2 linked regions of the Homo sapiens genome follow. The protein of the gene in region 1 purifies or fractionates together with the protein of each later gene. This does not show direct contact. Each region holds a gene or a part of one and is shown on either strand. Other genes may lie near its edges.

The links. Proteins that work in one complex are often made in the same cells at the same time.
Region 2: the proteins of FAM177A1 (region 1) and ODR4 purify together in Homo sapiens (affinity purification with mass spectrometry; 3 studies listed by BioGRID and IntAct, with this or other methods). This does not show direct contact.

Annotation. Positions count from the first base shown.
Region 1 is NC_000014.9:35,076,642-35,083,878, reverse strand, and holds the end of FAM177A1 (protein FAM177A1 isoform 1 precursor), read right to left. Parts: intron 6,730-7,237; coding exon 6,663-6,729; intron 4,953-6,662; coding exon 4,855-4,952; intron 2,858-4,854; coding exon 2,651-2,857; 3' UTR 501-2,650; downstream 1-500.
Region 2 is NC_000001.11:186,385,440-186,393,069, reverse strand, and holds part of ODR4 (protein odr-4 homolog), read right to left. Parts: intron 7,083-7,630; coding exon 6,987-7,082; intron 4,629-6,986; coding exon 4,522-4,628; intron 3,483-4,521; coding exon 3,446-3,482; intron 2,360-3,445; coding exon 2,219-2,359; intron 1,375-2,218; coding exon 1,279-1,374; intron 1-1,278. UniProt on the Homo sapiens protein: May play a role in the trafficking of a subset of G-protein coupled receptors.

The DNA of each region.
Region 1 (7,237 bases):
TATGTTAATTCAGGATAAAGACTTCAGTTATACATTACATTTAGTTTTTATGAGATGCTGAAAGATTAGAAGAAGGTAAATATGAACTATGATCCAGAAGGAACTGGAATTCTGTTTTTTTTTTTTTTTTTGGAGACGAGTCTTGCTGTGTCGCCCAGGCTGGAGTACAATGGTGCAAACTCCATTCACTGCAACCTCCGCCTCCCAGGCTCAAGTGACTCTCCTGCCTCAGCCTCCCGAGCAGCTAGGATTACAAGCACCTGCTACCATGCCCGGCTAATTTTTGTATTTTTAGTAGAAATCCATCTCTACTAATTCACCATGTTGGCCAGGTTGGTCTCGGACTCCTGACCTAGTGATCCGCCCACCTTGGCCTCCCAAAGTGCTGGGACTACAGGCGTGGGCCACCGTGCCCAGCTGGAACTGGAATTCTTAAAAGGACTGAAAAGGAGATAGGAAAAAGTGAGTGAAAGAGGCTTAAAGTAAGACAAACCATTGAATACATTTATGGGAAATTTTATAGTTTGCATAAACAAAGTATAAACTTAAGGCACAGTGAATAACTATATTGATAAACATAAACTAGCCACTATTGGACAAGTAGCAAAAGTAAAATTCAAGAAACAAAACCTTCATAAGTCACTACTTCCTTTTGTTACAATCATAAAATTTTCTGGGTAAACTCTAGATACTAGTACCTCTAGGGAGACAGGATTCAGAAGATCACTTTTAGACACACCTATCTTCACTTGATAACCAAATAAATATCTGTGAGTGAGAGGTACTATCTCGAATGAAGTTAAAAACAAATTAGAAGGAAAAGGTCAGGTTAGCATGTTTTAGAACTATTGGTAAACTATAATTCATGGGACATTATATAATCAAAAGATTAATATTTTAAGCACTAAGTTATAAAGGGTTTACACCCATGAATAAAAAGATTACCATCACTTACTATGAACCACCATTCCATGAATCCATGTAGCTGAACACTCCTAATGAAAAGTTTAATTATCCTTCAACCTGTAGTTGAAGAACTCAGTTCATGTTCATTGACAGATTTCCATTACAGACCCACTATATTGATGTTACTTTCTTTGACACTATATTTTATATAGATATATTAAAATTGAAAACTTAATGCTGTTTAGAAGGCTATTAATATAACTATTAATTTCTGAAAGCTTTGAGTTTCTGAAAAGGCTTTTAAGATCAAAATTTCTGAAACACTCCACACATTCTTCCTCACCCACATTTAATTATAAATCAATGTTATACTGATAAAAGGTTCTATACACACATTTAGAGATATATGTGTGTGTGTGTGTGTCTGTGTGTGTGTATATATATATACTTTTTTCCCCCCAAGATGGAGTCTCACTCTGTCGCCCAGGCTGGAGTGCAGTGGTGCAATCTTGGCTCACTGCAACCTCCACCTCCCTGGTTCAAGTGATTCTCCTGCCTCAGCCTCCCGAGCAGCTGGGATTACAGACGTGCACCACCACGCCTGGCTAATTTTTGTATTTTTGTAGAGACGGGGTTTCACTACGTTGGCCAGGCTGGTCTCAAACTCCTGACCTCAAGTAATCTGCCCACTTCAGCCTCCCAAAGTGCTGGGATTACAGGTGTGAGCACCGTACCTGGCCATATTTAGGAATATTTTCAAAATTAGCTTCACAATATATACATTTGTAAGGTTTACAAATAACCAAGTAGGTAGAGGAGTGGCCAACCAGATTCAAGTAAACTGTCCAGTCTTCACTGTTGCTACTTCTAAATGATGAATGACGGGTAATTTCATTAGGCTATCATTGCACCTTATACAATATCTAATTGCTCCTGATGGATTAAATCTATACCTGTCCCACTATCCCCCAATCCCCTCCAAACCACTTTTCTATAGGATTAACGCTGAACCGATAACATAACCAGGATGCCACATGGATATTCACTAGGTATTAACATTAATAAATCTATTCTATAAGTAGTGTTTTAATATTATGTTCAAAGCTAGTTATTTGAGTCCTGAAAAAGAATACAAGATTAAGTAAGTGGCTTGCATTAAAAAATGGAAGCCTATCTTAATATCTGGTGTTATAAATACAGATTCTTACATAAAACAGTTATTCTCAATGAAAGAAAATTCAAAGTGCTTCCATCTTGCTCCTTTTATTATATGGTGAAGCATCCTTAGTGTGAAATTAATGGTTAGATATATAAATGCATGGCATAACATGAGAAAATCTAGGAGAAAATATCCTCATTTTAATCTAAGACTATGGAATTATCAATTCCAATTAGACTTAATCAGCAACTTACCTTTTTCAAAAAAAGCAAATGCACAAATAGGCTTGATAATTTAACTCTTCTTAACTATTAAGGCTCTAGGATGTCCTTAACTTTTTTAAAAGATCATTTTAAAACCAAAGCACTAATTTCTATACACAGTAAAAACAGTACAAATATCTGAATTTCAGATCTGGCTTTTGCTAGATAGATCCTAAAAATGAAGAAAACATTTTCCCTTTCCAGATACTTTAATAATTTAAAATATAAATAATTGTATTAAGTCCCACTGAATAAAGAATGTGAAAGTTTTTGTATTAAAAAAAAAAAACTTAAGAGTTTGAAGCTTGATAGTCATTTCATTTTATGGTGGGACAGAGACTGGATTTTGCTTGCTTTCCATAATTACTTCACTGTCTCCCTCCATTTCAAAATTGACATTCACAAATGAGCTGGATATCACTGTCTCTGGTTGATCTGTCTGAACAATGGAATCAGTCTGCAATTTATTCTGTTGATATTGTTTTTCTGCTTCTTCAGACATCCTGTTTTCTTCTTCTTCTTCTTCTTCCTAAAAAAAAGGAGCAATATCAAGAATAGTTGAAATACGAAAGTCCAAAAGGTATATAGTGCTGTTTTCCCCACTGTCAGCTTATGTTTAAAAAAAAAAAAAAAAAAAAGTGTCATGTTCAAATCAGTTTGGTCTAATTAAGACATACTTTCCCTTCTCCTGCTCTCTAATTGAAATAACCACTGTAAAACATTTTAAGGAAAGTAGTTTTTTCTTGTTGTTTGTTTTTTTTGAGAAAGAGTATTGCTCTGTCACCCAGGCTGGAGTGCAGTGGCTCACTGCAACCTCCATCTCCCAGGCTCAAGCAATTCTCCTGCCTCAGCCTCCTGAGTAGCTGGGACTACAAGCACCTGCCACCACGCCCAGCTAATTTTTGTATTTTTAGTAAAGACAGGGTTTCACCATGTTGGCCAGGCTGGTCTCGAACTCCTGACCACAAGTGATCCACCCACCTCGGCCTCCCAAAGTGTTGGGATTACAGGCATGAGCCACCGCGCTCAGCCCAAAAGAGGTTACTTTTTAAAACAGGGTCCAGCACTACATCACGTAGATGAGACCTGAATTAACTTTGACAAGGACTTTATTTTTTTCAGATTAAGTCTAAGCTAAATAAATAAAAAGTTAGCTTCAACTGTATCACTTCAATTGTAGGGTGTCAGTCTATTCGGTTGAATAGGTTGGTTCATTTACTACATGATATATAGCATAGTTAGTTTTCCCATAAGCATCAAATACATAGATAAGGCAGCACCTACCCTCAAGAAGTTTACAACTTAGTAGGGAAGTTAAGACATGTAAAAACAGTATTATGACAGATGTACAGATTTTGAAAGGGTAAATAATTTCTAGTTGCAGAACTACTAAATTCATTGAGTAGGTGGCATTTGTATTGGACCCTGCAGAACGGGTAGTCAGTACACAGTGAGTAACCCCAGAAGATTACTCTGGGGCTTGCTTGAGAATAGAGACCATTTAGGAGGCTAGTATAATAGCCCAGATGAGGTAATGAGGCTCTAAGCAAGGCTTACAGTGTTAAGAAATACTTATTTGTTCATAAAACAGGTTTGAAACCATATGACAAATATTAAGTCAGCTGACCTTTCCAGGCTCATGTCCAGTCACTCCCACATTGTACCTTATGCTCCAGTGACAATAAACTATTATATTTTTGCCATTTCCCCAACCATAACAATGTACCTTCATGCCTCTACATTCTAGCTTTACCTGAATTGCTGCCCTCTATTTGCTTGAAGAATAGCAGATGCCAATATTTGTTGTGCTCACTAGGTGCTGTTCTAAACATTTTATATATTAATGTATTTAATCTGTAGAGCAGCCCCCGAGCATGGATGCTGCAATTCTCCTCATTACAAAGATGAGGAGATTGAGGCTTATAGAGGGGTTAAGTGTTCTGTCCAAGGTTACAAAGTTTTAAGTGGTAGAACGGATTTTGAATTCAAGCCCTTTGGTTCTTGAGCCCATGCTCTTAAGCACTAAAGGCTTTTATTTTTTAAGACAAAATTCACTTCACTCTCACCTTAAGACCTCACTACTTTTAAACTGCCCTCAAATTTTTGTGCATTAACACCTGGCACATACACATTTCTTGTACTTAAATTTTTATCTGTGCCAAACCCACTCCACTTTTCCTATATCCAGTCCATGTGCTCTAAGTATCTTGTTTCTTCATCTTAGAATTAGAATGATAATCCAAAGAGAGGCATGTGAAGATTAAATAATGTATATAAGGCATCTCACATAGCACTAAGACAATGAAATCTAGCTTAGTTTTGCACACAGATCATAGGAAAATTCCAGTTTAAAGGAATTCCAAAATGTATGTTACTTTGATAAAAGAAATTAATGATTCTAGAATGAAATGCCTAGCATAAGAGAGCTACATGTTGGGCAGTTAGAAAATACATAGGCTCATTATGCAACCCATCAAGTCCATAGCAAACCAAACTGAATCAAGAAAATGTAAAAAGGAGGCATACCTCCTTCTTCATCCGATAATATTCATCAATGGCATATTGGTACTTTGGGGTGCTGATACCCAAAACAGATGCAATCTTCTCTCCAAGGAAGTCACACACTGAAAATACAAAAGTTAAAAGACTTATATAATTCTATAAACATTTCTTGAGCACTTTCTATGTGTAAGACACTGTAGGAATACAAGAGTTACTGTTCCTGCTCTCAAGGAGATTATAAAAACCTAATAGATCTATCTTCTGTATATCTTCCCTGATTTTCTTCAAGAAGTACCGGTGGCTTCAAAACTCCCAACAAGTCTTTTCATGTCTGTATTAGAATACTTATCACTAGGTGTATCTGTTATATATCTATGTCTTTAAGAAAAGTGTATACTGCCAGGCATGGCGGCTCATGTCTATAATCCCAGCACTTTGGGAGGCTGAGGCAGGCAAATCACATGAGGTCAGGACTTCAAGACCAGCTTGAACAACATGATGAAACCTCATCTCTACTAAAAATACAAAAATTAGCTGGGCATGGTGGTGGGCACCTGTAATCCCAGCTACTCAGGAGGCTGAGGCAAGAGAATAGCTTGAAACTGGGAGGTGGAGGTTACGGTGAGACAAGATCACACCACTGCACTCCAGCCTTGATGAAAGAGCAAGACTCTGTCTCAAAAAAGAAAAATGTATACTCAGAAAGCTGGGATATCACTGGGCTGGAGGAGGGGAATGGCTTGTAGTATAATACTCACTGAGTGCCTACCATGTGCCAGGTACTGTGAAAGGTTAGGCGTAGAGAGGTTAAAGAACTTAACCCAAACTGATAAGGCAGATCCAAAGTTCAAAGCTAGGTCTGAATCTCAAGCTCATGCTCTTTCCATTACACCAACCTGTCTAGCATATATTCAGTGCTCAGTAAATGTTTGTTGAATCAATTACTATTCACAATTAGCTCTAATAAAATGCAGAAAGTGATAAAAAGCTATGAGGGAGTTAAAAATGGAAGCAGAAGAAAGCTTCATAATTTAAAACCTATATTTTAAATTAGCATTATTAAGTTATAAGTTGATAATTCATTTCCTTCAAATATGACTTAGTCACATCTCAATTTAAGAAATGGAATATTAATGAAATAGAAATATAAATTAACTATAATACAGGCTTTAGAATAAGCAGTGAGACAGATTGAGAATGTTATCAATTGGAAACCAAATGACAAAGCAGCAAAATAGCTGTTAAGAGAAAGGGTTTAAGAACTTGAGGCCGGGCGCGGTGGCTCACGCCTGTGGTCCCAGCACTTTGGGAGGCCGAGGCGGGTGGATCATGAGGTCAGGAGATCGAGACCATCCTGGCCAACAAGGTGAAACCCCGTCTCTACTAAAAATACAAAAAATTAGCCGGGCGCGGTGGCGGGCGCCTGTGGTCCCAGCTGCTCGGGAGGCTGAGGCAGGCGAATGGCGTGAACCCGGGAAGCGGAGCTTGCAGTGAGCCAAGATTGTGCCACTGCAGTCCGCAGTCCGGCCTGGGCGACAGAGCGAGACTCCGTCTCAAAAAAAAAAAAAAAAAAAAAAAAAGAACTTGAAAACCATATCTAAACTAACATAGTCATTTTTCATTCCTCAAAAAATAAACTATATTGGAAGCTGAAGAATGTTTTAATGTGAAGTACAAGTTAGGTTACTATCTCCCAATGCTAGCTAGCTCTTGAGGACAGTGATTAACTCCCTATTGTTTCTCCTTCAGTTTGGAAACATCCTATTTAGCAAAGTTCCTGTTGCTGAAGCATGTTACAGCAATTATACAATATTCAAGCAGAAAAGCAATACCTGAGAGAGTTGATGTAGCAGCCCGAAGCATGTAAAACCATAAGTAGGGACCCCAGGTAAGTTTTGTCTGCAACAAGAAATCATGTTAGCAACATTCATACCTAAATTCATTCCATATATTTAGGCCAGAATGAAGTAGTCAAATACTTGGTAGGCACCGAGAATATTCTATAGGCAGTACTACAAAGAGACTGCAATCCAATCAACAATTTAAAATCTGTAGAGTTAAAATTCCACAAAGATATTTTACATTCACCCATATAACTACCACCACCTTAAGCCCATAGAAGAATCAAAAAAAGATGCAGCCGCTGAAATGGAGTTGGTAATCGCAGTCTGGATTATTTTATGAGTTGACAATCCAGAGCTTTCCTTTCTCCTGTCTTGCTGCATTTTTGTCTCCACTATTTATAAACACAACACCAGAGGGGGTGTTCAGTCAATAGAAAGAAACTTAAGGATGCCATCTGACATACTTATGCTATAGCAGGGAAATTAAGGTTCAGAGAAATTAAGCAGGATATGTAAGGGAACATCAAATGAGCTTTTAATGGTGGGAAAATAAGGGACAAATA
Region 2 (7,630 bases), on another chromosome or scaffold:
GAACATACGGTATTTGGTTTTCTGTTCCTCTGTTAGTTTTCTTCTTTTCCTTTTCTTTTATTTTGAAATGGAGTCTTACTCTGTAGCCAAAGGCTGGAGTGCAGTGGCACGATCTCGGCTCAATGCAACCTCCACCTCCCAGGTTCAAGCCATTCTTCTGCCTCAGCACCCCGAGTAGCTTGTGCTTACAGGCACCTGCCACCACACCCGGCTAATTTTTGTTATTTTTAGTAGAGACAGGGTTTCACCATGCTGACCAGGCTGGTCTTGAACTCCTGACCTCAAGTGATCTGCCCACCTTGGCCCCTCAAAGTGCTGGGATTACAGGCATGAGCCACCACGCCTGGCCCCTGCCTCCCAAGTAGCTGCAATTACAGGCACCTGCCACCAATGCCCAGCTAACTTTTGTATTTTTAGTAGACACAGGGTTTCACCATGTTGACCAGGCTGGTCTCAAACTCCTGACCTCAAGTGACCCACCCACCTCGGCCCCCCAAAGTGCTGGGATTACAGACATGAGCCACCATGCCTGGCCCCTGCATTCGTTTTCTAAGGATAAAGGCCTCCAGCTCCATCCATGTTCCTGCAAAGGACATGATCTCGTTCTGTTTTAATGGCTGCACAGTATTCCATGGTGTATATGTACCACATTTTCATTATCTAGTCTGTCATTGATGGGCATTTAGGTTGATTCCATGTCTTTGCTATTGTGAATAGTGCTGCAATGAACATAATGCATGCATGTGTCTTTACAATAAAACAATTTATATTCCTTTGAGGGTATAGCCAGTAATAGGATTGCTGGGTCAAATGGTATCTCTGTTTTTAGGTCTTTGAGGAATCAACACACTGCCTTCCACAATGGTTGAACTTATTTATACTCCCACCAACGGTTTATAAGCATTCCTTTTTCTCTGCAGCCTTGCCAGCATCTGTTATTTTTTGACTTTTTAATAACAGCGATTCTGACTGGTGTGAGATGGTATCTCATTGTGGTTTTCATTTGTGTTTCTCTACCGATAGTAATGCTGAGTTTTTTTTCATACGATTCTTGGCTGCATGTATGTCTTCTTTTGAAAAGTGTCTGTTCATATCCTCTGCCTACTTTTTAATGAGGTTGTTTTTCTAAGAAAAACATTTGCCTTTTACTTTAAATCAGAAATCAGAAATGAGAGGTAGATGAAATCAGTTTTCTTGTAGGCAAGGACTAAAAATAAGTCATGTTTTATTTTTCCTTAAGCACTAACAATTTAATAAGATGATTTTCTCTTAACTTACCTGTCCTTCTAATAGGTCACAATCTTCATCTTTAACTTGTCCATTAATCAAATAAACACCATTTTCTATTTCCTTGGCCCAGCGTGTAAGTCCATTCTTAACAGAAACACAACATGGAAATCTTTCAGATACAATGCCATCTCAATTAAACTTCCTATAATCTACTTTGTTCCACCTAATAAATTGAAATATTAAAATCCCTAAATCTCATTACTGCAGCATTTAAATCTAGTTTCACAAATTAAAAAAAAGTATACCCCCATTCTTGATACCTTATTATATTTAATAATAGTTATTTTCTGATCTTTATCCCAGAATAACATTTATGTCACAGACTCAGGAGGTTATTAAGTACATGATCAGTTAAATAAAATTTAATGCCCACTACCTTAAAAAAAAAAGTGAGAAAAAAGCATCAAATAAGTCTAAAAAATAAAAAAAAAAAGCTCTATTTGACATCTTCAATGGGAAAAATGAAGAAAAATAAGATAAAAATAAAAGAATGGTATAGAAATACAAAAAAGAACTGGAAAAAGGAAGACAAAAAAACCTAAGTACTAAGAGAAAGCTAAAAGTCCAAACAGTATAGCTTCTTACATTAATTACATTTTACATGTTAATTAATGAATACTGTTATATTTAGTTTAATGACAAAGCACATAATAATACTTAATCAGCACATAATAAGTACTAGTATATTTAGTCTAACAACTAAATTATTAGTTATTATTAAACTGAATATACTAGTATTATGACATTGTTCCACTTCTAAAAATTTCTAAAAATTTCTAATTTGGCTGCGGTAATAAGTTACTCACATAACAACATTGTAAGCAGAATGTAATTTTTGAGGATTGTAAAATGAATGACACATGTAAGCAGAATAAAAGCAGATTGTTCACTCAGCAATCACTGAAGAAAATTCATTTTACCCTGGTACCTTTGTATTTTTCTCCAGAGTATAGCTGACAGAAGTAGCAGAAAGTGGGATGTGAATATTAATGTGAACTGTACACTCTAAAGAAAGCCATGAGGATGATAATCCACTTTGATACTTCCAATCTGCTGGTCTTGCTGAACTCTAGCAGTGGAGAAGGGAGAAAAATAACTATGATGTAGTCTAGATAAAATACATGGATCAACAAAACATTATTAAATATACAACCTAAATAACGCATACAAACTCATATCTAACATATATGGCTAAACCCTTGATCAAAAGACTATAGGTTGAACTAAACACAAAATAAAGCATGTGTTAAGTTCAGTACTCTTCAATACATCCTTGGCAATACTTCTCCTCCCAATGGTAGGCAGAAAAAGAATCAGAAATTTCCATGTTTAGAATTCTGAAAGGTCCTTTGATCCTCTAGCTTCAACAGTATCAATACTGAAGATTCTGATCTGAAGCAAATAATCACTGAGCAACTCCTAGGTGGCAGGCATTCTCCTTTCTGTCCCATCCTTGCTAATGACACTGCAAAGTTACTTTTTCACAACCCTTTTAGATGCATTAGCAAAGTGCTAATCTGGGTTTTGCTGAATACACATAGCTTGTTTAATAGGCAGTGCAGCTACCAAAAGTCCTCAGTCACTTTTACTACCAGCCTCTCAAATATAAAACTAAATACACAAACAAGGTAGGAGGAGATTAACAAAGATATTTTAACAATTTTTTAAAAAGTTGGCTGGCCGTGGTGGCTCAAGCCCGTAATCTCAGCACTTTGGGAGGCGAAGACAGGCAGATCACTTGAGCCCAGAAGTTCAAGACAAACATAACTAACATGGTGAAACCCTATCTCTATCAAAAAAAACAAAAAACAAAAAACAAAAATAATTAGCCAGGTGCAGTGGTGCACATCTATAGTCTCAGCTACTCAAGAGGCTGAGGTGGGAGGATCCCTCGAGCCCAAGAGGTGGAGGCTGCAGTGAGCTATGACTGCATCACTGCACTCTAGCTTGGGCAAGAGAGTGAGACCCTGTCACGCACAAAAAAGTTTTCCTTATCTGTAATAAAATTAATCATATTTCAAAATAAAAACTACAGTTGTTTGTAGGCATCAATAGGAAGTGATGGCAATGGAAATTATTAAAACTAAATAAAAGCTGAATTTTGATTGAAAATACTTTGTGACACAGAAAAATCTTTAAAGAGTAAATTTCTTACCTTTGGATCATGGATATCATAAGTTCGACAAAATATTCTTCACTAATTAAGGACAGAAATAACCAAAAAAGGCATTATTGGTAACTAAAAGAATATAAACTATCAAAAAATAAACTAAAAAATGCACGCATCCAAAAGTTCTTACAAAATCATAACACTTTAAAGATATGCGTACATATATGTACATGTGTGCATATATATACATATGTGTATATATAATCATACATACAAACTGCTATCACTATAGTACTTGCGGTGCTTGAAAATCATTTCCTACCTTTTATGAATCCCGCTAATTGCAATAAATAGAATCAAAGCACTCGTGAGATTCTTCTCAAATATACACTCTCCATAAGAAAAAGTACCACTGTTTTATATGAGGTCAAACCTGAGACTATTTATTGGATTAAAGGGCTTGTATATGAAACTTTGCAGTTAAATACTAAAGATTTTTTTTGTTGTTGTTAAAAAAAAAAAAAGCCCTGCTTCTGCAGGAATGGTCACTTTTAAAATTCTGTCTTTGGAAGTCCATGGATCGTGTCACTCCTTTGGTGAGGATGACCCTTGCTTGGGAGGTACTCTTGCCCTGGTAAGAGGCCGTGTAACTGGCTTTTAGTGTCATTTCATCTTAGCCAAAGACATAAGAATTTCTCCGATGTCCTATACCATCCAGCTCTGTGCACCTGTGCTTTGAATTGTACATCCTTATCTATAGAAACTGGAGGTGAAAACTTTAACATAATAAAAACATTACTTTGCCTAAGCCATCAGTTAGGCATTTATCTCTGTAGGGAATCTGCTGTGCTTGGATGTACAGGGCAGATAGCTGGTAAAAAATTCAGAATCCTGAGTCTTTCATATTACAGATCTCAAGCTTTTTATCACCTTGGGACATGATTAACAACCATTATTGCTATTATTATTATTGGTGGCTCTAATTCCATGTTATTTACAGAAAAATCTTACAAAACTATGCCTATTTTTTAAATGATGATTTAAATAAATAGCAAAAAAACCTTGCAAGAATATTATTTTGGTACTTTGTACTTTTAAACCATAAACTGAACAAAAGATACTTTTTTGTAGAAGCACAAATGTGAAGTGTCACTCGTTCTGAGACTTCCTCCTCTGTGAAATTCCACAATCTCTTTCTATTTATAGACTTTTCCACAGCAAACATTAGCTGAAAGAGAGAAAAATACACACTAATTGAATGTAAAATGAAAAAAAAAGATGAGTGTTGAAATAGGCAATTATAATGTCCCCAACTCTCATTTAGCTTTAAAATTCCATGATTCTTTATTTATTGGAGAAGGGGTCTCACTATGTTGCTCAAGCTGGCCTTGAACACCTGGGCTCAAGTGATTCTCTCACCTCAGCTTCCCAAGTAACTGGGACTACAGGTGTGTGCCACCATTAATTTTTCTTTTCTTCAAATTAAAGACTGGAGCTAATTACTAACATTTTTGAATTCCTTTTAGGAAATTACAGAAAAATTGGGTTTAAATAAAAAAATTTAATTCACTATCATTAGAGATTAACTGGACACAAAAAATTAATTTGGGGCAACTAGAATTTATATAAACTATAGAACAGAGACTTTAATTAGAATGAGAAATGATAAGTGATTTTAACTAAAGAAATCAAGCATGTCACCCATTTAGCATTTCTTATTTAAACGTCACACAAGACTTAAGGCAATATATAACAACATATAAAATATAGTAATAACAAATTGAAAGTTAAAGTAGAATAGTGAGATAAATTTGTGTCAGAAATAAGAATTATAAAAATGCATACTTGATGTAAGGGGTGGTAATACATTTCGGTCTAAGCTTTCTAACAATAATGTGCAGAGAGAAATCTAATCTGTAACCTAATTCACATGGTCTGTAAGCTAAAAACAATCATCAGAGGAGGCACAACCTTCTTCATAATATAAAAAGAAATTCTTCCGGAAACACAATATTAATGTAATATGATGAATAAAGTCCTTAACAATAATGGGTGACACTGACAAGTTTTATAAGGCTGTTTCTTGTAGTGTTTGTCAGTGTAGCCAGTGGAAACAATTAGATAATTGAAACTCAGTAATGTCAGAGATAAAGCATTTCTAAAGTTTTATATACTTTTTAGGAACAAAAGATACAAAAGCAAGGAAAGTGGGCCTGGCTGTATCTCTCTAGCACTGGGCCCACATTCAACCCCCTCAATTCAGCACCAGCCAAAAAAGGTTGCACAATGAATGCTATTAATATTAAATACGCATAGATTTCGGTTAAATTTCAAAATGCCAAAGAGAATGAACAATTGTAAACAAGGTAAATTTATTTAAGATGGAAAAGTTGGCAGAGGGTTAAACAATTTAGCAGGGAGGAGAATATCTCCATTTTCTTCCCTTACTCCCTTAGGTGCAAATATCAAAGGCTTGAGGCTGGGACATCTGACAGGACAGGTTACAAGACTGAAAAAATCTGTAACATCTGAAGTTCTCAGCTGTATATTTTTTACCTAAAAAATGTTTTTCTGGGATACTGTTGGGGTTGGGTTTTATATGTCTCAAGATTTTAAGGTTCCCCCTCTTTTGGGGTATGAAATACCCTTCAAAAAGTTCATGTGGATCCTGAATGCTAAAAGAGCTGGCTACACAGAATCTACCTTAGGTTTGGGTTTAAGGGAAAACAGCATGTGGACCTTCATATTTACTTTTACACTATGTTACCCAATTCTCTGGTGCAGCAATTAAGCAAAAAACACAGGAGATTTCTGATAGATACTGTGTCCAGGAATAATCTGATTGTTTATGTTTTACTCTCAGGATCTCCGGAGAATTGAGAAGAAGGTAAAGAATTTCAGCACCTATTAATTTCATGTTACAGTAATCACTAGGTACTAAATGGAAGGTGTGACAGAATACTGCTATTGCATAAGAAAAACTGTTTAAAGCATTATAATTTGTTTCCTAATAGTCAGAAATTACCTCTAAAATAAAGATTATTTTAAAATATGTAGTTTTTCTGTCAAAAAGAATTACTTCCACAAAGATGCCTTTTTTACAACAAATTATTAGATCCAAGTGACTTTGAGTTCTTAATATTATAATTAATCATTTGAATTTTTCAATATTTTACAATGAATTATTTGTTTGCATAATTTACATGGAATTACTGTCATTAGTCATGGTTATTATTGAGAAGTAAATAATTTAACTTTTTAACTTGAGGAAAGAATAGCTTTTTCAAATTTGTATGAAATGCCATATGGGCTGATGATAGCCCTGTTTTGGGTAGTGTACTAAATAAAGAATAAAATTACCCATGGAAAAAATAATAAATAAAATGTGTAGTTTTTAAAAATATAAACATTTTTTACACTCAAGATATCCAAGCAATTGAGTGACAAAAGCTTTTTCAATGTAACCCCAACAAAAAGAATTATGGAAAACAAATGTAAATATGCCTAGAATCATTACACATACTCATAATCAGTAAAAATAACATATAACTGATTTCATTAAGAATTTTCGATATATCAAACTTACTCTACGCAGGGCATTTTGAAAATCATTTGCCAGTTCTAAAGTAGTAATAATAAATACTCCAAGAACTAAAAGTCCCCCTGGTAGCATTCTGGATACCTAAAAATAGAAATATATTATTAGCTAACAAATTGGCATTATATGCAATCCTTTCTGTTTGAGAAACTGTCTGCTTAGCATGTCCTTAGCTTTTCACCTTAAAACTACTTTATAAATAAAACTATCTGATAACAACATCCTTTAGCTACATCAATAAATAAATCCTTTTCTCAGGAGATCAAAGACTGAAATATTTTTTCAATGGCGTCCCACCATCAGCTAAATAAAATGAAGTTTTATTTTAGATTGATATTTCAGACTTTCTAGGATCTGGTCAATGATGTTTATACCCTCATTTGACACTACTTTTCCTCAAGTAATTCAAATATTTGTCAAAAACTACTTGAAAAGTAGTGTCAAATGAGGCTATAAACTGTTTTCCATACACATCCTAGGCTTTCTAACTATGTGTCTTTACTCAGGGTGTTCCCTAGGCCGAAACTGACTTTTTCTTATACTTCTGCATGTCTCAACCCTACTGGATACTTCAAAGGCAGCTTGAGGAAGCTGCCTTCTCTGATCTTTTCATCTCTGAACTCCGACAGGGC